Linked DNA regions of Homo sapiens. The protein of the gene in region 1 purifies or fractionates together with the protein of each later gene. This does not show direct contact. Each region holds a gene or a part of one and is shown in the gene's direction. Other genes may lie near its edges.

Region 1 (3,256 bases):
CTTCCTGCCTCAGCCTCCTCACTAGCTAGGATTACAGGCACATGCCACCATGCCCAGCTGATTTTGTATTATATGTAGAAACAGGGTCTCACTATGTTACCCAGGCTGGTCTCAAACTTCTGGCTTCAAGTGATTCTCTAGCCTCAGCCTCCCAAAATATTAGGATTACAGGCGTGAGCCAGCATGCCTAGCCCAAGAGGGGGCATTCTAAGTGAGATTGTTCTGTGCCAAGTTCCTCTGCCACTTTTAACATCAATTCCCAGTTCCCAGAGTGATTATGAAACCCGACTCTGCCATTTCCTTGTTGTGTGACCTTGGATACATTCCTTAACCTCTCCAAGCTTCATATCTTTCTCTGTAAAATGAAAATACTAGGCCGGGTGCGGTGGCTCACGCCTGTAATCCCAGCGCTTTGGGAGGCAGAGACAGGTGGATCACCTGAGGTCAGGAGTTCGAGACCAGCCTGGCCAATATGGTGAAACCCTGTCTCTGCTAAAAATACAAAAAAAAAAAAAAAAAAAATTAGCCAGGCTTAGTGGTGGGCGCCTGTAATCCCAGCTACTCAGGAGGCTGAGGCAGGAGAATCACTTGAACCCAGGAGGCAGAGGTTGCAGTGAGCTGAGATCGTGCCATTGCACTCCAGCCTGGGCGACATAGCAAGACTCCGTCTCAAGTAAATAAATAAATAAAATAAATCAGGTCATGTTGTTATTATTATTTTTGTCTTTTTATTTTTTGTAGAGACAAGGTCTCGCTATTTTGCCCACGCTGGCCTAGAGGTCCTGGGCTCAAGCGATCCTCTTTCCTCAGCCTCCCAAAGTGCCAGGATTACAGGTGTGAGGCACTGCGCCCAGCCTGGCTGCTATGATGATTAGGAATAACTCTGAAGTCTATGAAGGGTGCAGCCCCTCCAGCCTAGGGGTGGGGGATATTTGCAGACATGGACTTTCTTTGAACAGATAGGGAAACTGAGGCACAGAGAATGGAAGTGTCTTCCCAGAGGTCACAGAGCACCTTGGCAGCAGAGCTGGGACCAGAGATCAGGGGAATGACCTCCTTCCACATCTCTGTGAAGAACTAAAGTCAGATGGGGGTTATGGGCAGGGAGTGAGCCCTTTAAATCCTAAGCTCCACCTTTACTTAGAAGAGTCTCTGGGCGTTATAAAAGGGGATGCAGCTCCCTTCTGCTCTGGGAAACGCCTGCTGCTCTTGCCCTTGCCCACGGGCCCCCAGCCCCAGCCCCTCTCCTGTGGCCCACCACCCCTGCTTTGGTGCCATGCAGCTGCCACCCTTCGACATGTGGAAGGACTACTTCAACCTGAGCCAGGTGGTGTGGGCGCTGATCGCAAGTCGGGGTCAAAGGCTGGAGACCCAAGAGATTGAGGAGCCAAGTCCCGGGCCTCCGCTGGGGCAGGATCAGGGGCTGGGGGCGCCAGGGGCCAACGGGGGCCTGGGGACCCTGTGCAACTTCTGCAAGCACAACGGGGAGTCCCGCCACGTCTACTCCTCACACCAGCTGAAGACACCGGATGGCGTGGTGGTGTGTCCCATCCTGAGGCACTACGTGTGTCCCGTGTGCGGGGCCACCGGTGACCAGGCCCATACGCTCAAGTACTGCCCGCTTAACGGTGGCCAGCAGTCCCTCTACCGCCGCAGCGGGCGCAACTCGGCCGGACGCAGGGTCAAGCGCTGAGCATCGTGAGATGCTCACCACCCGCACCCCTGACCCTCCTGGTCCATCCCACCCAAGTCCCTAAACTCTCTCTTCCAGTCACCCAGCCCTTTGGAATTTCTGGCCCCCAGAACTCCACCCTGGCTGGATCCTGAAACAGTGGAGGCTGCTGGGAGCCAGGCCAGCCCCGCCCCCTTGGACCTGTCAGCCCTCGGAGCTCTGGCCTGTGGGCGTTGGCCTGAGGGTCCTTGGTGCCGCGGGAACCCTTCCTGCACGGCCCTGTAGCGCCCTCTGGGCCCCGGTTCATGGATCTTTTGTCCTCGTGGGGCCTGCTGGTGACTGGAGCCCTGCCCCTTCGACTTCTCTGTTCCTTGTGGAGTTCTTGGATTTTTGAACCTCCAGGATTCCACGGTGCTGTCCCAAGCCAGCCCTTAGGAGATACTGAACAAGGCTGGCTGAGAAGTGCCTACTCAAGAACTTCAAGATGGGATGTCGACTTAAGACCAGCCTTCTCCATCTTCAGCCTCCTGCAGAACCACGGTGTCATCGTGGACCACGCCTGTTCATTCCTTCCCTGACCTCAGTACCCATCCGTCAGGAGCGGAGTAGGACTCTGGAGAGCACCGTATCACTGGAGGGCACCGTGTCTTCGCAGGCTCACCTGTGGATGGAGAGCCGTGGGGTGAGCTGACACCTTTCAATGCCCCCTGGTTGTTCTTCCCCTTGTTCAGCCCATTGCACCCGGTACCTGCCCCCATCCCCAAATCACCGATGGGTCCTTTCCCCCAGCGAGAAGCATATCTCTCGACCACCTCCCGTCCGACCCCCCAAATCGTGATAGTTGACTAAAGGACATTTTTTTTTCCTCCTGTGTTTTTCAACCTCCAACGTTCAAGTCAAGGAACCGCCGATAAGAAGGGGGTTTGAGTACCCGGATGGGAATGGCAATGGCCTAGCTTTTATTTTAGGGGCAAAGAGAAGAAGGGCCCCCGTCAGATTTTAAGTTGTTCAGTTTTTGGCACAGGGTCGGGACCCTGAGTATTGAGCTCTGGTGAATAAAAAGGTTTTCTAGTCGTCTTTGAAATGGCTGTATCTGTTTCCGTCTTTGGTTTGTTTGTGAGACAAGGTCTTGCTCTGTCGCCCAGGCTGGAGTGCAGTGGTGCGATCTTGGCTCACTGCCCGGATTCAAGTGATTATCCTCCCTCAGCCTCTTGAATAGCTGGGACTACAGGTGCGCCCCACCACGCCTGGCTAATTTTTTTTTTTTTTTTTGAGACGGAGTTTTGCTGTTGTCGCCCAGGCTGGAGTGCAATGACGCGATCTCGGCCCACTGCAACCTCTGCCTCTCGGGTTCAAGCGATTCTCCTGCCTCTCAGCCTCCGGAGTAGCTGGGATTATAGACATGCACCACCACGCCTGGCCATTTTTGTATTTTTAGTAGAGACGGGGTGACCGAGTAGGCGGGACTACAGGTGCACGCCACCACACCCAGGTAATTTTTATTTTTGGTTTTTGTTTTTTCTTTTTTGAGATGGAGTTTCGTTCTTGCTGCCCAGGCTGGAGTGCCAATGGTGCGGTCTCGGC
Region 2 (3,500 bases), on another chromosome or scaffold:
TCTAAAACGCCAGTTCATGGAACAGGCACTTCTTTCTCCCACTCCTTTCCATTTATGCTGTAGTTTTCATGGATTTCTGCTCAGTGTCACAGACGGTGGCCAAGAGGCTATCCAAGCCTTGTTCTGCCAGAAGTAGGTCTGGAGGCTGGTCCTCTTCTGGGCTTCCTACGCCACTTGAGTGCTGCAGCTACTGGGATTCCAGGGCTGTGGCTTCCTTGGCCTGGACCACTTCCTCCCTCTGCAGGTGGTACTGTTAAGTTTCATCCTTAGCTGCTCCTTTGATCTACTTCAGCCTCTGGGTCTTTTGCTCATGGGCCTTGGATACCTTCTCAGTGGCACATTTCTCAGCCTGCAGCAGCTGCTGGATCCCCTGAGACTCACTGGCCATGGTGGCGGTGTCTGAGTCTGAGGCAAGCAGCCTGAATCAGCTGGAAGGCGCGTCAGGTCATCTTAGCTGGCTGCCCACCATCTGTGCCTCAATATTTTTTTGTTGGTTTATTTTTTTTTTTTGAGATAGAGTTTCGCTCCTGTTGCCCAGGCTGGAGTGTGATGGCGCTTTCTCAGCTCACTGCAACCTCTGCCTCCCAGGTTCAAGCGATTCTCCAACCTCAGCATCCTGAGTAGCTGGGATTACAGGCATGTGCCACCACGCCCTGCTAATTTTGTATTTTTAGTAGAGATGGGGTTTCTCCATGTTGGTCAGGCTGGTCTCGAACTCCCGACCTCAGGTGATCCACCCACCTCAGCCTCCCAAAGTGCTGGGATTACAGGCGTGAGCCACCCCACCCGGCCTTGTTGGTTTTTTTTTTTTTTTTTTTAAGTTTATTTATTTTTTTGAGACAGAGTCTTGTTCTGTCTCCTAGGCTGGAGTACAGTGGCGCCATCTTGGCTCACTGCAGCCTTTGCCTCCTGGGTTCAAGTGATTCTCATGCCTCAACTTCCTGAGTAGCTGGGATTCAGGGGCATGCCACCACGTCCGGCTAATTTTTGTTTTTTTGTGTTTTTTTTTTTTTTTTTGAGAGGGAGTCTCGCTCTGTCATCAGGCTGGAGCGCAGTGGCGCGAGCTTGGCTCACTACAACCTCTGCCTCCCAGATTCAAGTGAGTCTGCTGCCTCAGGCTCCCAAGTAGCTGGGATTACAGGCGTGCGCCACCACGCCCAGCTAATTTTTGTGTTTTTAGTAGAGAGAGGGTTTCACCACGTTGGCCAGGATGGTCTTGATCTCTTGACCTCGTGATCCGCCCACCTTGGCCTCCCAAATTTCTGGGATTACAGGCATGAGCCACCACGCCTGGCCTAATTTTTGTATTTTTGGTAGAGACAGGGTTTCACCATGTTGGCCAGGCTGGTTTGAACTCTGGGCCTCAAGTGATCTGCCTGTCTCAGCCTCCCAAAGTGCTGGTATTACAGGTGTGAGCCACCATGCCCGGCCTACTTATTTTATTTTTGAGACAGGATCTTGCTCTGTCACCTAGACTAGAGTGCAGTGGTGTGAGTCCCCTCCAGTTCTTGGCCTCAAACAATCCTCTCACCTCAGCCTCCGGAGTAGTTAGAACTACAGGTGCATACCACCATGCCTGGCTAATCTTTGTTTGTGTGTGTGTGTGTGTGTTGTTTTTTTTTTGTTTGTTTTGTTTTTTTTGAGACGGAGTCTCACTCTGTCACCCAGGCTGGTCTGGAACTCCTGGTCTGAAGTGATCTTCCTGCCTTGGCCTTCCAGAGTGCTGGGATTACAGGCGTGCACCACTGTGCCTGGTGTTATTGGTTTTTTTTTTTTTTTAAATAATGAGCAAATGTATACCTATTATAATTAGGAAATTTAGTTTATGGAGGAAAATCTCATTTTTCTATCTGTCACAGAAATATGATCTACTTTGCATGCTTGTTTGAATGTTGGAAAGAGTGAATTGATCTATTAAGTTAGGAAAAGCATTTCAAAAATACTTGTACTATAATTATAAGGTGGTGGTAATAGTGTGGCCACTACTTCTGTTTCATTATTCACCAGTTAATAAATAAACACCTTGTTTTTTAGAGAGGACATGTACTCCCAGGATTCCATAGATCTCCTTGCTAACTCAGGACTACAGTTTCAGAAGCATGAAGAGGAAGGGATTGACACACTGCACTTTGCAGAGCTGCTTATGACATCAGGAGTGGTTCTCTGTGACAATGTCAAATGGCTTTCATTTCATAGGTCAGTCCTAGGGAATGTGTATTTCTCTCTCACTTTGGGCTACACTGAAGCAGGGAATTGAATTCTTAGTCATTTTTGCAGTCCTAGTGACTGTTCTGTTCAGCAGCAGCAGCCAGAAGTTGAATTGGTGCTTGTTGCCCATGTTTCAGTTTTTCACAAAACACTGGGGCTCATATACTGGTTTGTTTCACACAGTATTTGGCTCTATCATGTGGCTATCAGTGGGTTTAATTCCAAGTGGGAATATGGTGGGTGTAGAGGGTCACAGTACTTGGTTATCTTTTAAATGGCTGTCTCGGAGTTTCTTAGGTACTTGAAAGCCAGATTCTCCTTATTTTAACTTCTCAGTACTTTTGGATTTTTGGTGAATCGAATCTACAATTAAACCCCTTGGGTACTTTTTTATATCTCCCATATTAGTCTGTTAGGTTGTTATTAGAAAGTTCAGATTATAGGCCGGGCGCAGTGGCTCACATCTATAATCCCAGCACTTTGGGAGGCTGAGAAAGGTGGATCACCTGAGGTCAGGAGTTCGAGACCAGCCTGGCCACCATGGCAAAACCCTGTCTTTACTAAAAATACAAAAATTAGCCAGGCATGGTGACGGGTGCCTGTAATCCCAGCTACTTGGGAGGCTGAGGCAGGGATAATTGCTTGAACCTGGGAGGTGAAGGTTGCAGTGAGCCGAGATCGTGCCATTGCACTCCAGCCTGGGCAACAGAGTAAGACTCTGTCTCAAAAAAAAAAAAAAAAAAAAAAGATTCAGATTATAGTACGATAAACTACTCAGAAAAAGTGAAAGTTCCTAACATGAAGTAGCATTTACAAGCTTTGAGAAATAAAATGGTTGAACACTGGGGCCTGATAACCACTGCTTTTTTAACCTCTGTGGTTTATTCTCTTGTAGTGGCTATGATTTTGGCTATATGGTAAAGTTGCTTACAGATTCTCGTTTGCCAGAAGAGGAACATGAATTCTTTCATATTCTGAACCTTTTCTTCCCATCCATTTATGATGTGAAATACCTGATGAAGAGCTGCAAAAATCTTAAGGTATATGATGTTTTTCTTAATACCAGTAACAAAAAGAAGGACAGAAAAAAAGCTGACTTTGCTTTATTGTTACGTGTTCAGCATGCATTTTTGAGTACTAGATGCTAGTGTGGTGGTAGACAGGGTATAATATAAAGCTGATTTGGTCAGATATTTGTGTGGTAACGATCTTTAACCTGGCCATGAAGGGAACCCTCTGCTTCTGTCATCTTAAGGCAGGCATTCTTCACTCGAGGGCCATGAACCTAATGA
Region 3 (3,500 bases), on another chromosome or scaffold:
TTAAATTATTTATTTATTTAGAGACAGGATCTCTGTCTGTCACCCAGGCTGGAGTAGAGAGGCATGGCTCACTGCCGCCTCGACCTCCTAGGTTCAGTTGATCCTCCCACCTCAGCTTCACAAGTAGCTGGGACCACATGCCTGCTCCACCACACTCAGCTAATTATTTTTATTTTTTGTAAAGACAAGGTCTCCCTATGTTGCCTGGGCTACTCTTGAACTCCTGGGCTCAAAGGATCTTCCTGCCTTCTGCCGTAGTACTAGGAGTACAAGCATGAGCCACTGTGCCTGACCAATTTATTGTTTTTAAAGAGACAAGGTTTCACTATGTTGCCCAGGCTGGAATGCAGTGGCTATTCACAGCCATGATAATGGCACACTATAGCCTTGAACTCCGGGGCTCAAGCAGTCTTCCCACTTCCCTCTCTGGAGTAGGTAGCTTTGATACTGGCACACATCCCTATACCTGGCTATTTTTAAGCTTTTTATTTTAAATATTCAATATATGGATGACTGTCAAAGGCATTGTTGAGCAAAAGAAGCCAGACACATGGGAATTCATACTGTATGTTGATTATGTGAAGTTTAAGAACAAGCAAAGCCAATTACTGGCAATAAGTTGGATTCGTGGTTAGCTCTGAGGAAAGAACATTGACTGGGGAAAGGTACAAGGGAATGCTGGAATCCTGAGTTGGTAGAAATATTGCTTTTTTCTGTTTTTTTTTTTGTTGTTGTTGTTTTTTGTTTTTGAGACAGTCTCACTCTGTCACCCAGGCTGGAGTGAAGTGGAGTGATCTCGGCTCATTGCAACCTCTGCCTCCTGGGTTCAAGCAATTCTCATGCCTCAGCCTCCTGAGTAGTTGGAACTACAGGCACACACCATCATACCCAGCTAATTTTTTGTATTTTTAGTAGAGATGGAGTTTCGCCATGTAGCCCATGCTAGTCTTGAACTCCTAAGCTCAGGCAATCTGCCTGCCTCCACCTCCCAAATATTCTGTATTTTATACAATATTTTGTATTTTAATCTGGTTATAGTACATAATGTGTACATAGGTAAAAATTCAAGGTACACTTAAGATTAGTGCACTTAACACACTTCACTGTGTGTAAGTTTATATTAGGTTCCTATATAACCTGCTGCTATAACAAATTACCACAAGCTAGAAGGGTAGTGGCTTAAAACAATGGAAGTTTACTGTTTTATAGTTTTGGAAGTCACAAGTTCTAAATGAGTTTCACCAATCTAAAGTCAATGTATCAGGAGGGTCATGCTTTCTCTGGAGGATATAGAGGAGAGTCTTTTTGTTGCCTTTTCTAGCTTCTAGAACTGCATTTCTTGCATTCCCTGGATTATGGCCCCCTCCCTCTTCAGATCCAGCGATGTGGCATGTTCAAATCTCTTTCTGCTTGTCACATTGCTTTCTCCTTTGTGGTAAAATCTCTCCCTACATCTCTCTTGTTGTTGTTGTTGTTGTTGTTGTTTTGTTTGTTTGTTTGTTTTAAGAGATGGGGTTTTCTCTGTCGCCCAGGCTGGAGTGCAGTGGCATGATCATAACTCACTGCATCCTTGAACTCCTGGCCTCAAGCAGTCCTCCCACCTTGGCCTCCCAGAGTGCTGAGATTACCAGCATGGGTCACTTTGCCTGGCCTTCTCTACATCGCTTTTAAGGACACTTCGTTATTACATTTAAGGCCTACTTGGATAAACAGGGATAATCCCCCATCTCAAGATCCTTAACTTAATCACGTCTGCAAAGTCCCATTTTTCATTTAAGGTAACATTTGCAGAGTTTGGTGATTAGGGCCTGGATATCTTTGAGAGCCATTATTCAGCCTACTACAGTGTTATAACCCCAATAAAATAGTAAAATAATTCCACAGTTCATTTTGATGAGCAGCCAAGAAAGAGTATCATTATCGTGATTGTCTAATTTAAATTAAACTAATATTTTAATATCTCTTTTATGTAAGAGCTAATGAGCTCAAGTTGAGGGAAAAATTGAGGCCACATATAAGCTTCACAGCCAGGATATGTTTTATTACTGTTAGATAATCTTCAAAGAGAAGCGTGAAAATCTTATTTCTTCAAGATCTTTTAAGAACAAAAAAGGCCTTATCTCAGCCGAGTGCAGTGGCTCACGCTTGTAATCCCAGCACTTTGGTAGGCCAAGGCAGGTGGATCACGAGGTCAGGGAATTCAAGCCCAGCCTAGCCAAGACGGTGAAACCCCGTCTCTACTAAAAATACCAAAATTAGCCAGGCATGGTGGCAGGAGCCTGTAATCCTAGCTACTCGGGAGGCTGAGGCAGGAGAATCAGTTGAACCAGGGTGGCAGAGGTTGCAGTGAGCTGAAATGGAGCCACTGCACTCCAGTCTGGGCGACAGAGTGAGACTCCATCTAAAAAAAAAAAAAGAAAAGAAAAAAGAAAGAAAGGCCTTACTTCATCTGGAAGAGAGGAGGCATAGCTGAATAAATCATCTTGGCCTATGGAAAAGAGAAGAGCCTTAGATATTCAAATGAGGCTTGGATCTCAGCTGTGCCATAGTAACTTTGTCACTTGGGACCTTAACCTGGTGCATTATTGATTAACAGTTATACCGGGCACATAGTAGGTACTCTGTAAATGAGAAGGTCTCTGAGTTTTTAAGAATTTGATAATTACACGGAACCTACCCTTGTATGTAAAGTGAGAATAATAATGGTACCTACCTCATTGATTTATTATAAAAATAAGATAAGCATGTAAAGCCTCTAGAAAAAAAAACTGGTACAAAGTAATGTTCAACATGGTAATATTTATTATTCTTTGTACTATACATATATGATAAAGTTGTACATAATATACAAGGATCCCTGCTTGCTCAATTTTCTGACTGATAGTCATGCCTGGGAAAATGAGTAGAAAATGAGAAGATTAAATCTGAGCAACTTTATAAACTCTTCGATTTTGTTTTGCTTCAGGTTGCCACATTCATCCTCCAGAAGATCTTGTTAGATGACACTGGTTTGGCTTATATATGTCAGACGTATGAGCGTTTCTCCCATGTTGCCATGATCTTGGTGAGTTCTTTCATCTATCCCCTTTACAACTACTTCTCATCACAAAGCTTAATCTCTTTATAACTGGCATTGAACAACTTCAGTCCTCTGACTAGAACTAACAATTTTGGAACCTTTTATGATTCTTGGACTATCTGATCTCTGATGTCAATTAGAATTTGTTTGTGTTTTGTGTGTTTTTTCCAACCCCTCCCCTTATTTTGGGGGAAACAGGGTAAGATGGTCCTGCAGCTATCCAAAGAGCCTTCTGCCCGTCTGCTGAAGCATGTAGTGAGATGTTACCTTCGACTTTCAGATAACCCCAGGTAAACATTTATAGGATGTATAGGACTTTAGGGAAATACTCTGCTGAACAGTTTCCTAATCTCATGGCATAGCTCCTGTGTCTTTAGGACAGGGAAGTGGGGATATAACTGCATTTAGTTTGTCTGAGACA
Region 4 (3,500 bases), on another chromosome or scaffold:
TCCAGCTGGTAGGTAACAGTCTATATTCAGGCCGGGCGCGGTGGCTCACGCCTGTAATCCCAGCACTTTGGGAGGCCGAGGCGGGCGGATCACGAGGTCAGGAGATGGAGACCATCTTGGCTAACACTGTGAAACCCCGTCTCTACTAAAAATACAAAAAATTAGCTGGGCGTGGTGGTAGGCGCCTGTAGTGCCAGCTACTCGGGAGGCTGAGGCTGGAGAATGGCATGAATCCGGAAGGCAGAGCTTCCAGTGAGCCGAGATCTGCGCTCCAACCTGGGGACAGAGCGAGACTCCCTCTCAAAAAAAAAAAAAAAAAAAAAAAAAAAAGGCCTATATTCAAATTTAGGCAATCTAAGTTGTTGTGTTTAACTTGACTGTTATGGTCACTGCCTTTAAACATGAAAGTAAGACTGTTGGTCTAAAAGATGAAAGGCAGACAAAATTTTAAAGGATTCCAACTAAAAAAAAAAAAACTAATGGGAAAGGCAAATTTTGGTGTATTTATGGTTGTTCAGATAGATGAGGGGAAAAATAACATACCCCCTAAGTGGCTGTAGTTGCTGTTGTCTGGAATTTAATACGTGGTTGTGCTGTTAGAGACCTAATTGCCCAAGTTACTTCTAAATCAGACTTAGTGTTTCCTATTTCCCACTGAAATCTGCCTCAAACAGCCTATAATCAAACTTGGAAAATAGTTCAGTAAGAGGAACTGAACTTTTGTCCACAGGTATACTTTAACTGAGGTAGATATATTTCTAATGTTATGTAAATTGAATTTTTATAGGTGATTTCAAACGTGCTAGGCAAACATTTAAAAGAGCCTATTATTTTTCTTTACTAAGGCAAATAATTGATCTGTTAGCTGAATCATTTTTCAGCTAAAACAGCTCAATCATTTATTTTTGTTAAGAAACTAGGGATTGGGAGTATCTAGATGACCATAAAACAAAGAACTTTACGGTTTAACAGATAATACTTAATAGTTGGAGGATAACATAAAAAGCAATTACTCTTAAAGGAGTTGATTTTAACAAAGTCATTAAGTTCACCTTCCTTTTCTAAGATAAAAACCACTTTGCCTTTTGTTAACCAGAGGTCAGCCTAGAGAATCACCAGAATGAACAAAGTTTTAGTACCCTTTTCTGAGCAGTAGGTCTATTTGTGTGGAGTAAGTTTTTTCCCCCAGAAAAATCTCATTTGGTTAAGTTTAGCTATACTTTAAATTGAGCTTGCAAACTCTGTTTCTGCTTAAGTTTAAAAGTTTGGTATATAAAAAAGTTATTGTCTGAATTATTGCTATCTTTAAAGTTTATAAGTATATAGAAAAGTTGGTTTTGGGGCTGTTTAGTTAATTTGAAAGTAGAGCTTTTCCAGTTTTTGTGCTGTTAGTAAATTTTTCTACTTTTTAATTCGTCTTACCATGTATGGCAGGAAGGGCAATAGGAACCATTTATTGTGGGCTTCATAAACTCAGATGCTGTAATAGAGTCAATTATGTAATCTTATTATTCCTTACTATTTAAAGAAGTAGATATTAACCCTTCTACAAGAGATATACAGAGGTTCCAAGAAGTTAAGTAATTTCGGTAACATAGAGATGGAGATTTGGGCCGCTTTCTGTGATTCCAAAGCATAGTTTCCACCATAGCACACAGAGAAATGGCATAGTATGGTAATCAGTGGTTGGCTTTGTAGCCAGACCATTTGGGTTCGAATCTCAGCTTTGCTGCTTACAGCTTTGTGACTTTGAGTGAATTATTTAAATGAGACTGTTTGCCTGTTTCTTCATCTGTTAAATAGGAACAATAATAGTACCTTCTCCTAGGGTTGTTGTAATAAATAATATTTGTATAATTCTTAAAATAATGTCTGACGGTAAGAACTTCATGATTATTAGAGAAGTTGTCTTTAATGAACATCCTTTAACACACCAATCCAGTGAAATTCAGTGAAATCTGCACAGATGAGTTGCACACGGAGGGGTGTTTTTCTTTCTTAGGTACTACTTTTCTGTTGACCTTTGTAATTTATTTGAATCAGGATCTAGGTCCCACAAACTGCAATTGGCTGCCATTTTAAATGCCTTAATTTGCATATTTCTCCTCAGTTTTTTTCCTTGTACTTTGTTGAAGAAACCAGGTCATTTGTCCTGCAGTTTCCCACATTCTAGATTTTCTTGATTCCTTGTAAATTGGTAGTTGGATATAGAGGCTTAGATTGAGATTTGATTTGGAGATAGAGAAGACTGAGAAGACTAAATTTGTTAGGTGATTCTGTGTATTTGGGGATTTTTATTTTCTGGTTTGTTCAGTGGTTCTCATCTGTATCATTTTCTTGCAATTTCTCTGTTGGGCAACATAGAATAACTTTATGGTTTATTTACTCTCGTTTGAGATGCTAAGTAAAGTGGAGTGTTTGGTTTGCTTTGGTGCCCAATTCAGTATTAACTGTTCCAGGTAGTTTCTTTCCTGCCTTTTTTTTTTCCTACTTGTATATTTATTCTGTTATAAAATTGAGCCAAGTATCATGGGTTTTCAGTGTTCTTGTTTCCTGGTTTTGGTTACTAATGAATAGTTGTCTCAGCATATTCAATCTGAAAATTTCTCAAAACTGAATTTTTTTCCCTATTTTCTACCCTCCAACTATTAGGCATTTTATTATTTGCACTTATGGTATACTCACTGTAGGCTAGGCACTATTCTTTTTTCTTTTTGCAGGGAACAACATCCAGGCATTACTCTTAACACTTTATATACATTCACTCATTTAATCAACAATTCAAGAGTCTCCAAATTAGGTAGGTATTTGGGACAAAAAGGGGTGAAATAACTTATTCAAAGTCACACAGCTAGTGTGTGACAGAGCCATCTAGGTCCAGAATTTGCTATTCTAACTTAAAAATTAATATTTGCATTGGAAGTGAAGCTCATCTAAGAAGAGATTTTTAGAGATGCTTTTAAATGATTCTTTTTAAAAAAAAAAAGTATGTCTCAGCTGGTCATGGTGGCTCACAACTGTAATGCCAGCACTTTGGGAGGCTGAGGCAGGCGGATCACATGAGGCCAGGAGTTTAAGACCAGGCTGGTCAACATGGTGAAACCCTGTCTCTACTAAAAATACAAAAATTAGCCGGGCATGGTGGTGAATGTCTGTAATCCCAGCTGCTCTGGAGGCTGAGGCACTAGAATCACTGGAACCTGGGAGGTGGTGGTTGCAGTGAGCCAAGACTGTGCCATTGAACTCCAGCCTAGGTGACACAGCGAGACTCTGTCTCAAGAAAAAAAAAAAAAAAAAAGCGTGTCTCAATCTGTTAGTCACTACTATTAAATCACTCATTTGTTTAAAAAAACTATAGTTTTGAAAATGTTACAAATAGCCTGTTTACTTGTAATCATAGGGAAATAGAGCCTTTTGGTGCTGCTGAAACTGATAAAAGTTTATTTATTTTGTAGAGACAGGGTCTTGCTCTGTTGCTCAGATTGGAGTGCAGTGGCATG
Region 5 (4,299 bases), on another chromosome or scaffold:
TCAACTAGGGCACAAAAAGATTAGTTTTTTCCTTGCAAAGTGATGTGGATGGTCTGCTGCTGCAGGTGCTATTTTCAATATTGTCTCACTTCTTAAAATGAGTTATCCATTGTAAACTGCTGATTTCTTTGGGTCATTGTCCCCACAAACTTTTTATAAGCCATCAATGATTTCACCATTCTTCCACCCAAGTTTCACCATAAATTTGATTTTTGTTCTTGCTTCAATTTTAGAAGAATTCATGTTGATCTTATAGGGGCTCTTTTCAAACTGATGTCTTACCTTTCTTAGTGCCTCAAACTAGATCCTGTTCAAACACCTTATAACAAGTTAGTAGGAGTTTATTTTGGTGCAAAATAATTCAAAATCCATGCATAGTTTTTTTCATAATATGCATTTTCCATGAACTTTTTGATGACCTCTTGTATGAAAGGGGATTTATTAGGGGAATGAACTCATGCAATTTTGGAGGCTGAGAAATCCCATGACAGACCACCTGCAAGCTGGAGACCCTGGGATGCAGGTAACATGCTCAGTTCAAGTCCTAAAGCCTCAGAACTAGGAAGCCACTGGTGTAATTCTCACTTTGGGATAGAAAGCCTGAGAACCCAGGGAGATGCTGATATTAAGTCCTGGAGTCCAAAGTCTGGAGTTATAATGTCCAAAGGCAGGAGAGAATGCCCCAGCTCCAGGAGAGACAGAAAATCACCTTTTCTCTGTCTTTTCCATGCCATCCATGCCCCCGGCCAGTTGGATGGATCCCACCTACGTTGAGGGTAGATGTTCCCCACTAGTACACTGACTTACACACCAATCTTCTTTGGAAACACCCTCATAGACTTACCCCAAACTAATGTATTACCAGTTCTTTAAGTATTCCTTAAACCAGTCAAATTGACACTTAAAATTTACTATCACGCTACCTATACTAGAGATAGTGATCTAGAGTCCATTGAGGTGGCTAGAGTGCTCAGGAGCTGGCTTTGCTACAGTAATACTCCCTTCTTCCATGGAGAAGCAGCATGCACAGTGGCTCTGAGAAGCTGGAGGAGGGTCACTGGAGTGAGTGGGCTTCTGGTCTGAAATTGACCAAGAATATAGTTCCTGTGGACCAGGAGTGATTAGAAGCTACAGAGGTCTTAAGAGACCTATCCCTCCTCAGTCTACCTTGCACTTACTGAGGGCTCCCACTCTTAGGAATAATTCCATCGTTTCATTTTGTGGCATCAGAGATGAGTCATTGACCCGGAAGAAGTCCCGTAATGTTTCTCAACTCAGTATCTGTGACTATATTTCCTGCTCTTAAAAGTTTAGCATGCCCTCATGTTTCAGGTTGCTTGGAGAAGTCTTAACCATGCTGTTCACATAAAGAGTCACTAAATCCTCTGGCATCAGGAACTAGAAAATATCCTGAGTGTTGGGCAGTGCCAGACTTAGTGAGGCAGAACTTCCTTCCTTGCCCATGTGGATAAAAGGCCTGGGCCCTGTTACAGCCTGTCAGAAAACCCAAGTGCAGTAGAAGCCATTGTTCATAATGGTAGGGATACAGGGTCCTTCGTAACAGATTATCAGTGTGGCCTATGCTGGAAAGTCTGGTGACCTCTGATTTTTTTTGCTTCCAGGTCTTTGGCCTTGGCACTCTTTGTCATATTAGAGTTCCTGGGTCTAGGCCTGGGCAGGATTCATAGGTGCAGCTGCTTCTGCTGGAGGTAGACTGCATCCAACAAAGTAAGGGTGCTGGGTGAGTTCTGGGAGTATAGATTCTGACTGGGGTCACTGCTGGGCTGGCCGCCAGTCTTTCATCTGACCCAGGGTTAAACTGTGGCTTGGGACTGACTCAGGTCCTCTCTTGGGGTCGGTCTGCACATAAAAGGACTCCTATCCTTGGCAGTTCTGAAACAACACCACCACAATGGAAAAAGGTAAAGATCCTCGTGGAAGGGCGAAAAATTGACAAGGGGGTGATATTCTGTGCTCTCATTCTTACTAATTTACATTTTGACTTTCTCAACAGCATTGAAAATTGACACACCTCAGCAGGGGAGCATTCAGGATATCAATCATCGGGTGTGGGTTCTTCAGGACCAGACGCTCATAGCAGTCCCGAGGAAGGACCGTATGTCTCCAGGTGAGTAGCCACGGTCTGTGAAAGGCAGCTCCTTTGGCCAGTGCTGTTGTGTGTTTGGTGCTCAGATGTTATTCCACAGTGGGCTTGTTAACCGGGCATATCTACAGAGAGGAGCATCTCACAGACAATAATGAATAGAGGGTGAGCATAAGGTTGTTCTGGGACTATGGTCATGAAGTCAGAGAAGAGAGAGAAGGCTTAAGGGAGACTGAAGGGTCAGCCTATGAAAAACAGTGGAAGACGTATTCTGAGAAACTTCAAGGAGTAAGAGTAGGACAAAAGAGGGTAATCTATGGGAGGACCAGTTTTTGAATCCATGAAAGACTGACTTTTCTAATGGAAAGTGTTCCCCAAACATAGGATGGGTGTCCCGGTTAGGTGGTGGGTGGTGAGGTGACCATTCTATGAGTGCACTGTGAGTGTCAGTTAGCAGATTCCCTTAAAACTCTGGCTCAGAGGTACCACCCTGGAAATGGCAGCTGAACACCACTTTTCACATCGTGTTCCCAGTCACTATTGCCTTAATCTCATGCCGACATGTGGAGACCCTTGAGAAAGACAGAGGGAACCCCATCTACCTGGGCCTGAATGGACTCAATCTCTGCCTGATGTGTGCTAAAGTCGGGGACCAGCCCACACTGCAGCTGAAGGTGAGTGTGGAAGACAGGTCCTGCCATTTATTTGATGGAAACTCAGATTTCAGGATCTTTTAAAAGACAATGTACTTATTATGCTCATGCATTTTTATTTTTGGTTTCCTTGGGGTTGGTATATGTTATGAAAGACTAAGAAAAATTGCAGGGACATTTTGAAACAAACCTACTAAAATGACTTATTATTTTAATTTACAAAAATATTAATAATTTGGCAAGGATGATGTCTAACTTCAATAGAACACACACACAGAGTAAAATCAGCAAGGACATTTTAGCAGTTAATTATCACAAAGTAGACGAACTTATTAAAACATCTTTTTGGCAAAAAATACATTGCAACTTTAAATGAACAAACATAATTCTCTGTAATAAACACTTCAATAATCGCAATTTTCCATTATTAAAAAAAGATAATTATAGCAGGCCTCTGTGTACTACAGGAACTCTCTTGACCCTTTTCAGTAAACAAGCATAAGCAGACACTCAACTTGATGACAAGATATAAAACAGTGTTTTTCAGCCAGGGGTGATATTGCTCCAGGGACATTTGTCAATGTCTGGAGATGTTTTGGTTGTGACAACCTGGGATGGGGGTGTGATACTTGCATTTATCGGGTAGATGACAGGGATGCTACTAAACATCCTATATTATTATACAGGACAGACCCTGAAAACAAAGAATCATCTTGCCTAAAATGTCAATAGTGCTGAAGGTGCAGAAACCTGACAGAAAATAACTGTTTTAATTTGAAATTTACAGTAACTGTTACATAAATATTCTTTAAGTTTCTGTTTCTGAACAACAAATAATGGCCCAATCAATGCTTTGTATTCTCAAAAACTTTCATGTCAACACATTTTTCAGAGCCTCACATTAAAAACCATTAAAATTTGTAGCCTGAGTTTCAACCATAATCTTAAAAGAATTTAATTTATATGATTTTCAATCCCATAATATGAAACAGAGGTCTCCAAGCTGCTTCAATGAGTAGGGAATGCTATCCTTGGACGTGGAATATCAGTGTGTAAAGAATGTGAAACATTCAAACAGTTATGTTTCTTGCTGGTGTCTCCTTCGCACCCTTCAGGAAAAGGATATAATGGATTTGTACAACCAACCCGAGCCTGTGAAGTCCTTTCTCTTCTACCACAGCCAGAGTGGCAGGAACTCCACCTTCGAGTCTGTGGCTTTCCCTGGCTGGTTCATCGCTGTCAGCTCTGAAGGAGGCTGTCCTCTCATCCTTACCCAAGAACTGGGGAAAGCCAACACTACTGACTTTGGGTTAACTATGCTGTTTTAAGGTCAGTTGGGTTTGGAGGATAGTCTCCATGCAGGGAAAATCTTAGTATAATCTTAGCCTGGAATGGGCAGGGAGAATTTGTTATTGGACTTTCCACCTAAGAGTATCTTGCTGCCTCCCAATATATTCATGCAGTGACCTAAGTGCTGGACTGGTCCCTCTCCCTGGGGCCATGTGGAAAATAGTCCAGGGAAATTGAGGGCCTTGCCATGAG
Region 6 (3,500 bases), on another chromosome or scaffold:
TTATTTGGATGTTTCAGATGAGATAGGGCACATTCAGGATGGTACGGCTGTAGACTATTTGGATATTTCAAAGACAGGAGTAATCAGGTATCTTGGAAAATGATTAGGAAAAGAATTTACTGATGAGATTATATTTGAGATTAGCATTGAACAGACTGTGAGTAAAGTTGTTTTAGCAGTGGGAATAACATCCACAGCATGGGATAGATTTAGGAATGGCCTACTTTATCAAGACAGGAGACACCTGTTAGGCTGTTATATTGATTTCAGCAAGAAGTACAGTCTTCACATTTCTGAGAGATTTATTTCAAGATCATTGCTACTTTTAAAGTTCAAGAACACAGCTATAGAATAACATTTTCCACCATAAAACATCCTTTTTGTGTGTGTGAAAACCATCACTTGATTAGACTATCTTATTTTATCTTCACTTTTGGTACCACCTGTTGGCTTTCTTTTCATAAGTATGACACACGCACACACACACACACAGAGCTAATATTTATTGAATATTATCTACTGTGTATCAGATGCGATTTTAAGTATTTATGTGAATTAACTCATTTAACCTTCACAGCAGCTCCACAAGAGTTTAAGGAATTTGTTCAAGGTTACACAGATTGTAAGTAGTAGAACCAGGATTATATTACTTTGTAAGAGTAACTATGTGAACATGAGCTGAAAACATCAGTTTCTTTGATACCTGAATGCCATGACCCTAGAAAGCCATTTGTACATAGTAGAAACTACCAGTGTTAAATCCACAGGTGCCAAGAATCTGTTGAATTAAGACATTGTGATAGAATGTATTCATTCTAATAATTATGTATTTATTGGGTGCCTACAATGAATGAGGTATTATTTCAAGATATAGATAAGAATATAGCAAATAACAAATGTCCTGTTTTTATGGAGAGAGAGAGAGAGAATGTTAGTAATACTGCAGTAGTCCAGGCAAAAAAAAATGGGATGACTTGGACTAGTGGAGGTGTTGAGAAGTGATCAGATTTGGTACATTTTGTAGATAGAGCTAACAGGACTTGATGATGTAGGAGTGAAAGAAAGGGATCAAGAATGATTTCTAAGGTTTCCGACCTGCAAACCTTTGTGAATGAGTGCCACTAATCTAGAGCAGAAATTTAGGTTGAGGAAGTGTAGAGTGTACTTGGGAGATCCACACAGCTATTCCACAGGTAAAGATTCTGTGGCACTCCTCTAAAGATCCAGCCAGATGTTGAGACTCTCAGCTGATTCGAGCACAGCAGCCACTTCTCATAGTTGTGGAAGCCACTTAGCTCCATCCATGTTTCTTGTCTTATACATTCTTAGCACCTAGAAGGCAAAGCCTGTTCCTCCGCCAGGTGTATAACTTGTCCTCATTTTCATATATCTCGTCATTCTCTCAGACTGAACTATTGTAACATTTATACCCACCTGACTCCCCACCACTGCCACCACCAAACACCTGGCTGAGTCTCATATGTTATTTAATTCATATACTATCTTCTGTCTCCTCCAGGAAAATTTTTCTGCTTCCAGACTCACTCTATTCCCAAGTCTGAGTTAGTGTGGTCCCTCCTACAAGCAGTCAAGCACGCTATGTCTACTGCATGTAAACACCTTGGTCATAGCACTTATTTATTTTTAAGTAGTCTTTTATATCTCTAGAACAAGAGAAGGGAAAGTATTCTTGCTGAGGAGTTAGATATGAGTAGTAAAGGACAGATTTGAGGAAAGGAATAGAGAAAGAAGAAAGAAGATTATAAATCAGATATGTAGTGTGTAAACAGAGTAAAATGCTTGTTAAGGTTAGAAAACATCTTTGGGTCTTGACAGAATTTTAATACTCTAGAACAGTGGTTCTCAACCCTGACTGCACCCATGGAAACACCTGGGGAATTTTTAAAATTCCACTGCCATGATTGCCCAAAATCACAATTGCTGGAGAGGAGACCTAGACATTAAAGTTCCCTGGATGATGCAAACATTATTAACTACCATTAAAAAATGGAAAATGATATTGGTTGCAAAAAAGGCATTGAAATAGGAGTCAAGAAATTGGATCATTGTCTTTAATGCCTCATTACTTGTGATCTTGAGCAAGTCACTTAATGCCTAGTGTGAATTCTTTATCTGTAACCTACTTGGATAATCTCTGGAGTCTTTTCTATTCTAAAATACTTTGAATTTAATGAAGAAAATTGCATAAGGAAATAATTTTACAGGAATCATTAACCAGCTAAGTGCAAGACAGGTTGAAGGTAAGAAGCCATTGAGATAAAGCACCATTTATGTTGTCCTTTTTAGTATGGGCATGCCAGTGAGTTCCTAGAGGAAGCTGGCTGCTTTGCAAATGGAAAAGGGGACACTTTAAGGCATCAGTTAAGGACTACTCTCTCCTGCCCCTATAAAGATTTTAGGGGACTTTATTTAAGTATGAATATTCAGGGATTTGGTTGCTATGATTTTATTTTTTCATGTAACTTAATATTTTTTATTTCTAGCAAAAAATTGAATAAAGAATGACGTATTTTGCCATAAGTGTTTAAGTGATGTGCTGTTAATCAGTTTGTGCAGTGGAAATAATTAATGGAATAATTTCTTAGATCATATTCTTTAAGGGTTTCTGAAAAATGATCAATAAGGAATTTGACTAACACCCTGCCAGATAAGAGGTAGGAATCTATTTAGAATGTGTTCGTATAGTCCTCCTAATATTGTGTTGTTATTATCAATTGTTAGATTGAAAGAAAAATTTGACTCAAAATTATAACCTTTTAAACTTTTTTTAAAATTTGTTTTTATTCTTTGTAAAAAGGTGATAACCTTTTTTATAAGATGATTATAAGAAGGAATTGAGAGGAAGTAGTATAGTGCTTTGTTGATAAGTGCCCAATAAATTTTAATTTTACTGTCCTTCCAGTCACCTGCTCATATACAAGCTCATTTATACATATTTATATTTTTGCCTGTTTTAGTTTTTTTATGCCAAGAAAAACTCCTTGAGTTCTTCCCATTTTTCTTTTTTTTTCTTTTTTTCAGCTGTATGTCCTATTCTTGGCATAATATTTTAGAGATGATTTTTCTGTGATTGTTTCTAATTATACTAGTGAGAGATTAGATTTTTTTCCCCTTGACCCTATTCAGTTGTGTTAGTTTGACTCAAGCAACTCAAAGTTAATGACTTAGTATATTTAGTTTCCAAAAAACAAATCTTTATATATACCTTTCCAGTGCCATTCTTTATGTTTTAAAGAAATTCAGTTTTTAAAATAAATTTAAAGTAACAATTATTAAGTATTCAGGGGTTGATGATCCAATTTGAAGTGATATATTCTTTTTTGATCTTTTTATACTACTTCAACAAAATTAAACTTAGACTTTTTGAATTTATTAGCTGTTTTTGTGAAGATTAATTTTAGAAAGCTAAAATTAAACACTGAAAGTAAGTTACTTTATTCCATACGGTCTCTGTCCAGTTTTAGCACTAAAATCAGTTC
Region 7 (3,111 bases), on another chromosome or scaffold:
ATGGATGTGCTGGAGGGGCTCAACCTGCTCATCACCATCTCAGGTACAGGTGTGGTGAGTGGGGGAGGGAGGAGGGGCTCAGCTCCTTGGCGCTGTCACCATCTTCTGCCTGGGAGGAGGGCAGGCACTGGAAGGTGGGGCCACACTTTCTCACCCCTTGTGGTATGCTGACAGAGGAGGCCAGGGCGGTGGCATTCGGGCCTCAGATGAGAATGGGGGCGGGTGTGTATGTCTGTCCGTCCCTCAGGGAAAAGGAACAAACTGCGGGTGTATTACCTGTCCTGGCTCCGGAACAAGATTCTGCACAATGACCCAGAAGTGGAGAAGAAGCAGGGCTGGACCACCGTGGGGGACATGGAGGGCTGCGGGCACTACCGTGTTGGTGAGGATGTCCCAACAGAGTGGCCAGCGCATACTTGTTCATGAAGAGAGAAATGGATCTGGGAGCCAGGGACTTGGGGCCTGGGTGGGGCAGTGTAGTGACAGACCACGGGGAGGCGCCCGTGGCGCAAGAAGGGAAGTCTCAGCATCCCTCTTCTCTCCCGCCCCCAGTGAAATACGAGCGGATTAAGTTCCTGGTCATCGCCCTCAAGAGCTCCGTGGAGGTGTATGCCTGGGCCCCCAAACCCTACCACAAATTCATGGCCTTCAAGGTAATCCCAGCCTCGGTCCCTAACACCATCTGGAGTCCCAGCGCCTCTCCCCGTGCCCCTGAGCCCTCCTCTCCTCCGGTTCTCTGCAGTCCTTTGCCGACCTCCCCCACCGCCCTCTGCTGGTCGACCTGACAGTAGAGGAGGGGCAGCGGCTCAAGGTCATCTATGGCTCCAGTGCTGGCTTCCATGCTGTGGATGTCGACTCGGGGAACAGCTATGACATCTACATCCCTGTGCACGTGAGCTTGGCGGGGCTGCTGGGGGAGTGGGATGGCCCAGTCTGGGCACCAGACACGGAGACTCTAGTCCCCCTCCTTCTCCCCAGATCCAGAGCCAGATCACGCCCCATGCCATCATCTTCCTCCCCAACACCGACGGCATGGAGATGCTGCTGTGCTACGAGGACGAGGGTGTCTACGTCAACACGTACGGGCGCATCATTAAGGATGTGGTGCTGCAGTGGGGGGAGATGCCTACTTCTGTGGGTGAGTGAGCTGCCGCCCTCCCAGCCACATGCCCCGAGGTGGCCCCGGGGTGCAGCCTGCTCAGCCCCTCACCTGTTCCCCACAGCCTACATCTGCTCCAACCAGATAATGGGCTGGGGTGAGAAAGCCATTGAGATCCGCTCTGTGGAGACGGGCCACCTCGACGGGGTCTTCATGCACAAACGAGCTCAGAGGCTCAAGTTCCTGTGTGAGCGGAATGACAAGGTGGGAGGCTCCTTCCCTCTGAAAGCCCTGCTGTCCCGGCTGCCATGACCCTAGGCCCCTGGGCAGAGTTCTGGGGAGAGGATGGTGGTGGTGGCTTCCTGAAAGCGGGCCCCTCTGGGAGCTCAGAGGGCAGTCAGCCACTACCACTGCCCTGCGCTCCCTTCAGATTCCGAGGACTTCCCAGCTGGCCCCCAGGGGGCGAGTGGTGCACCCTCTCCCCTAACATCCCAGCCTGCCTTTCCTCCGGGTGAGGGGCACTGTGAGTCTCCTCCTGCAGTCTCTGTGTCTCCCTCAACTCTTCTGCCACCCCTTCTTCCCTTCTTTCCCTCTCCCAGTTGAGACACCCCCCCAACCTCAGCCCTTGGTGACTTCTTCTCCTGCCCCACCCAGGTGTTTTTTGCCTCAGTCCGCTCTGGGGGCAGCAGCCAAGTTTACTTCATGACTCTGAACCGTAACTGCATCATGAACTGGTGACGGGGCCCTGGGCTGGGGCTGTCCCACACTGGACCCAGCTCTCCCCCTGCAGCCAGGCTTCCCGGGCCGCCCCTCTTTCCCCTCCCTGGGCTTTTGCTTTTACTGGTTTGATTTCACTGGAGCCTGCTGGGAACGTGACCTCTGACCCCTGATGCTTTCGTGATCACGTGACCATCCTCTTCCCCAACATGTCCTCTTCCCAAAACTGTGCCTGTCCCCAGCTTCTGGGGAGGGACACAGCTTCCCCTTCCCAGGAATTGAGTGGGCCTAGCCCCTCCCCCCTTTTCTCCATTTGAGAGGAGAGTGCTTGGGGCTTGAACCCCTTACCCCACTGCTGCTGACTGGGCAGGGCCCTGGACCCCTTTATTTGCACGTCAGGGGAGCCGGCTCCCCCCTTGAATGTACCAGACCCTGGGGGGGGTCACTGGGCCCTAGATTTTTGGGGGGTCACCAGCCACTCCAGGGGCAGGGACCATTTCTTCATTTTCTGAAAGCACTTTAATGATTCCCCTTCCCCCAAACTCCAGGGAATGGAGGGGGGACCCCGCCAGCCAAAACATTCCCCCCATTCCCGACCCCCCTCTCCTCTTCTAGCCCATGCCCTTCCCCGGTGGAGGGAGGGAGCAGGGAGCCCTCACTCTCCACGCCCCTTGCTTGCATCTGTATATAGTGTGAGCAGCAAGTAACCCTTCTCCCTCCCCCCCCACCCCTCCTCAATGTAGTGGCCTTGGATATCCTGTTTGTTAATAAAGACAATTCAACCAGCTCCCACCATGCAGGCCGCATGTCCTTGCTTTCTGTCAGTACTGTAGACTAGGCAGAGAGAGCCTCCAGGGTGGGGAAGAAAGGGGCAGGGTGGGCTGGGATCTGCAATGAGTGAGCCTCATGGGGTGGGATGGGCAGTGCTGGGCCAAGAAAACCTAGAAGAAATGACTGTGGAAGGGTCAGGGCAGCCTCAGCCTTAAACCTGTGGGCCTGAGGGCCACCAGCACTGAAGGTGTTTGGTTCCCACCCGCTCCAGCAGAGCCAGACCAGGGAAGAAGAGGGTTTCCTGGCTACAGCCTCCCTGTGTGCAAGTCCTGCAAAGGGGTCTCCTGTTTGGCTATGAAATGAATATAGATAGATAGCTCACAAGCTGGCAGCCACCAGAGTCCCGTGGGGCTGAGCCTTAGAAAGGCTGGGAGGTCAGCAAGGCTGAATGAAGGGCAGTCCTTGCTTTCTGGAAGACTGGCACCTGAGAGCCTATGTGAACCCTTTCCTCCTGCTGACCCCTG

The links.
Region 2: the proteins of NANOS2 (region 1) and CNOT8 purify together in Homo sapiens (affinity purification with mass spectrometry; 2 studies listed by BioGRID and IntAct, with this or other methods). This does not show direct contact.
Region 3: the proteins of NANOS2 (region 1) and CNOT9 purify together in Homo sapiens (affinity purification with mass spectrometry; 2 studies listed by BioGRID and IntAct, with this or other methods). This does not show direct contact.
Region 4: the proteins of NANOS2 (region 1) and GPBP1L1 purify together in Homo sapiens (affinity purification with mass spectrometry; 2 studies listed by BioGRID and IntAct, with this or other methods). This does not show direct contact.
Region 5: the proteins of NANOS2 (region 1) and IL36A purify together in Homo sapiens (affinity purification with mass spectrometry; 2 studies listed by BioGRID and IntAct, with this or other methods). This does not show direct contact.
Region 6: the proteins of NANOS2 (region 1) and CNOT2 purify together in Homo sapiens (affinity purification with mass spectrometry; 2 studies listed by BioGRID and IntAct, with this or other methods). This does not show direct contact.
Region 7: the proteins of NANOS2 (region 1) and MINK1 purify together in Homo sapiens (affinity purification with mass spectrometry; 2 studies listed by BioGRID and IntAct, with this or other methods). This does not show direct contact.

Annotation. Positions count from the first base shown.
Region 1 is NC_000019.10:45,912,714-45,915,969, reverse strand, and holds NANOS2 (nanos homolog 2), read left to right. Parts: upstream 1-1,191; 5' UTR 1,192-1,276; coding exon 1,277-1,693; 3' UTR 1,694-2,756; downstream 2,757-3,256. UniProt on the Homo sapiens protein: Plays a key role in the sexual differentiation of germ cells by promoting the male fate but suppressing the female fate. Represses the female fate pathways by suppressing meiosis, which in turn results in the promotion of the male fate.
Region 2 is NC_000005.10:154,868,627-154,872,126, forward strand, and holds part of CNOT8 (CCR4-NOT transcription complex subunit 8), read left to right. Parts: intron 1-2,034; coding exon 2,035-2,196; intron 2,197-3,103; coding exon 3,104-3,248; intron 3,249-3,500. UniProt on the Homo sapiens protein: Has 3'-5' poly(A) exoribonuclease activity for synthetic poly(A) RNA substrate. Its function seems to be partially redundant with that of CNOT7.
Region 3 is NC_000002.12:218,589,339-218,592,838, forward strand, and holds part of CNOT9 (CCR4-NOT transcription complex subunit 9), read left to right. Parts: intron 1-2,965; coding exon 2,966-3,064; intron 3,065-3,277; coding exon 3,278-3,369; intron 3,370-3,500. UniProt on the Homo sapiens protein: Component of the CCR4-NOT complex which is one of the major cellular mRNA deadenylases and is linked to various cellular processes including bulk mRNA degradation, miRNA-mediated repression, translational repression during translational initiation and general transcription regulation.
Region 4 is NC_000001.11:45,680,034-45,683,533, reverse strand, and holds part of GPBP1L1 (vasculin-like protein 1), read left to right. Parts: intron 1-3,500. UniProt on the Homo sapiens protein: Possible transcription factor.
Region 5 is NC_000002.12:113,003,960-113,008,258, forward strand, and holds IL36A (interleukin-36 alpha), read left to right. Parts: upstream 1-1,499; 5' UTR 1,500-1,912; coding exon 1,913-1,922; intron 1,923-2,014; coding exon 2,015-2,128; intron 2,129-2,638; coding exon 2,639-2,778; intron 2,779-3,872; coding exon 3,873-4,085; downstream 4,086-4,299. UniProt on the Homo sapiens protein: Cytokine that binds to and signals through the IL1RL2/IL-36R receptor which in turn activates NF-kappa-B and MAPK signaling pathways in target cells linked to a pro-inflammatory response.
Region 6 is NC_000012.12:70,323,433-70,326,932, forward strand, and holds part of CNOT2 (CCR4-NOT transcription complex subunit 2), read left to right. Parts: intron 1-3,500. UniProt on the Homo sapiens protein: Component of the CCR4-NOT complex which is one of the major cellular mRNA deadenylases and is linked to various cellular processes including bulk mRNA degradation, miRNA-mediated repression, translational repression during translational initiation and general transcription regulation.
Region 7 is NC_000017.11:4,895,451-4,898,561, forward strand, and holds the end of MINK1 (misshapen-like kinase 1), read left to right. Parts: coding exon 1-43; exon of another isoform or gene 44-44; intron 45-247; coding exon 248-382; intron 383-552; coding exon 553-653; intron 654-742; coding exon 743-892; intron 893-978; coding exon 979-1,138; intron 1,139-1,223; coding exon 1,224-1,363; intron 1,364-1,753; coding exon 1,754-1,837; 3' UTR 1,838-2,611; downstream 2,612-3,111. UniProt on the Homo sapiens protein: Serine/threonine kinase which acts as a negative regulator of Ras-related Rap2-mediated signal transduction to control neuronal structure and AMPA receptor trafficking.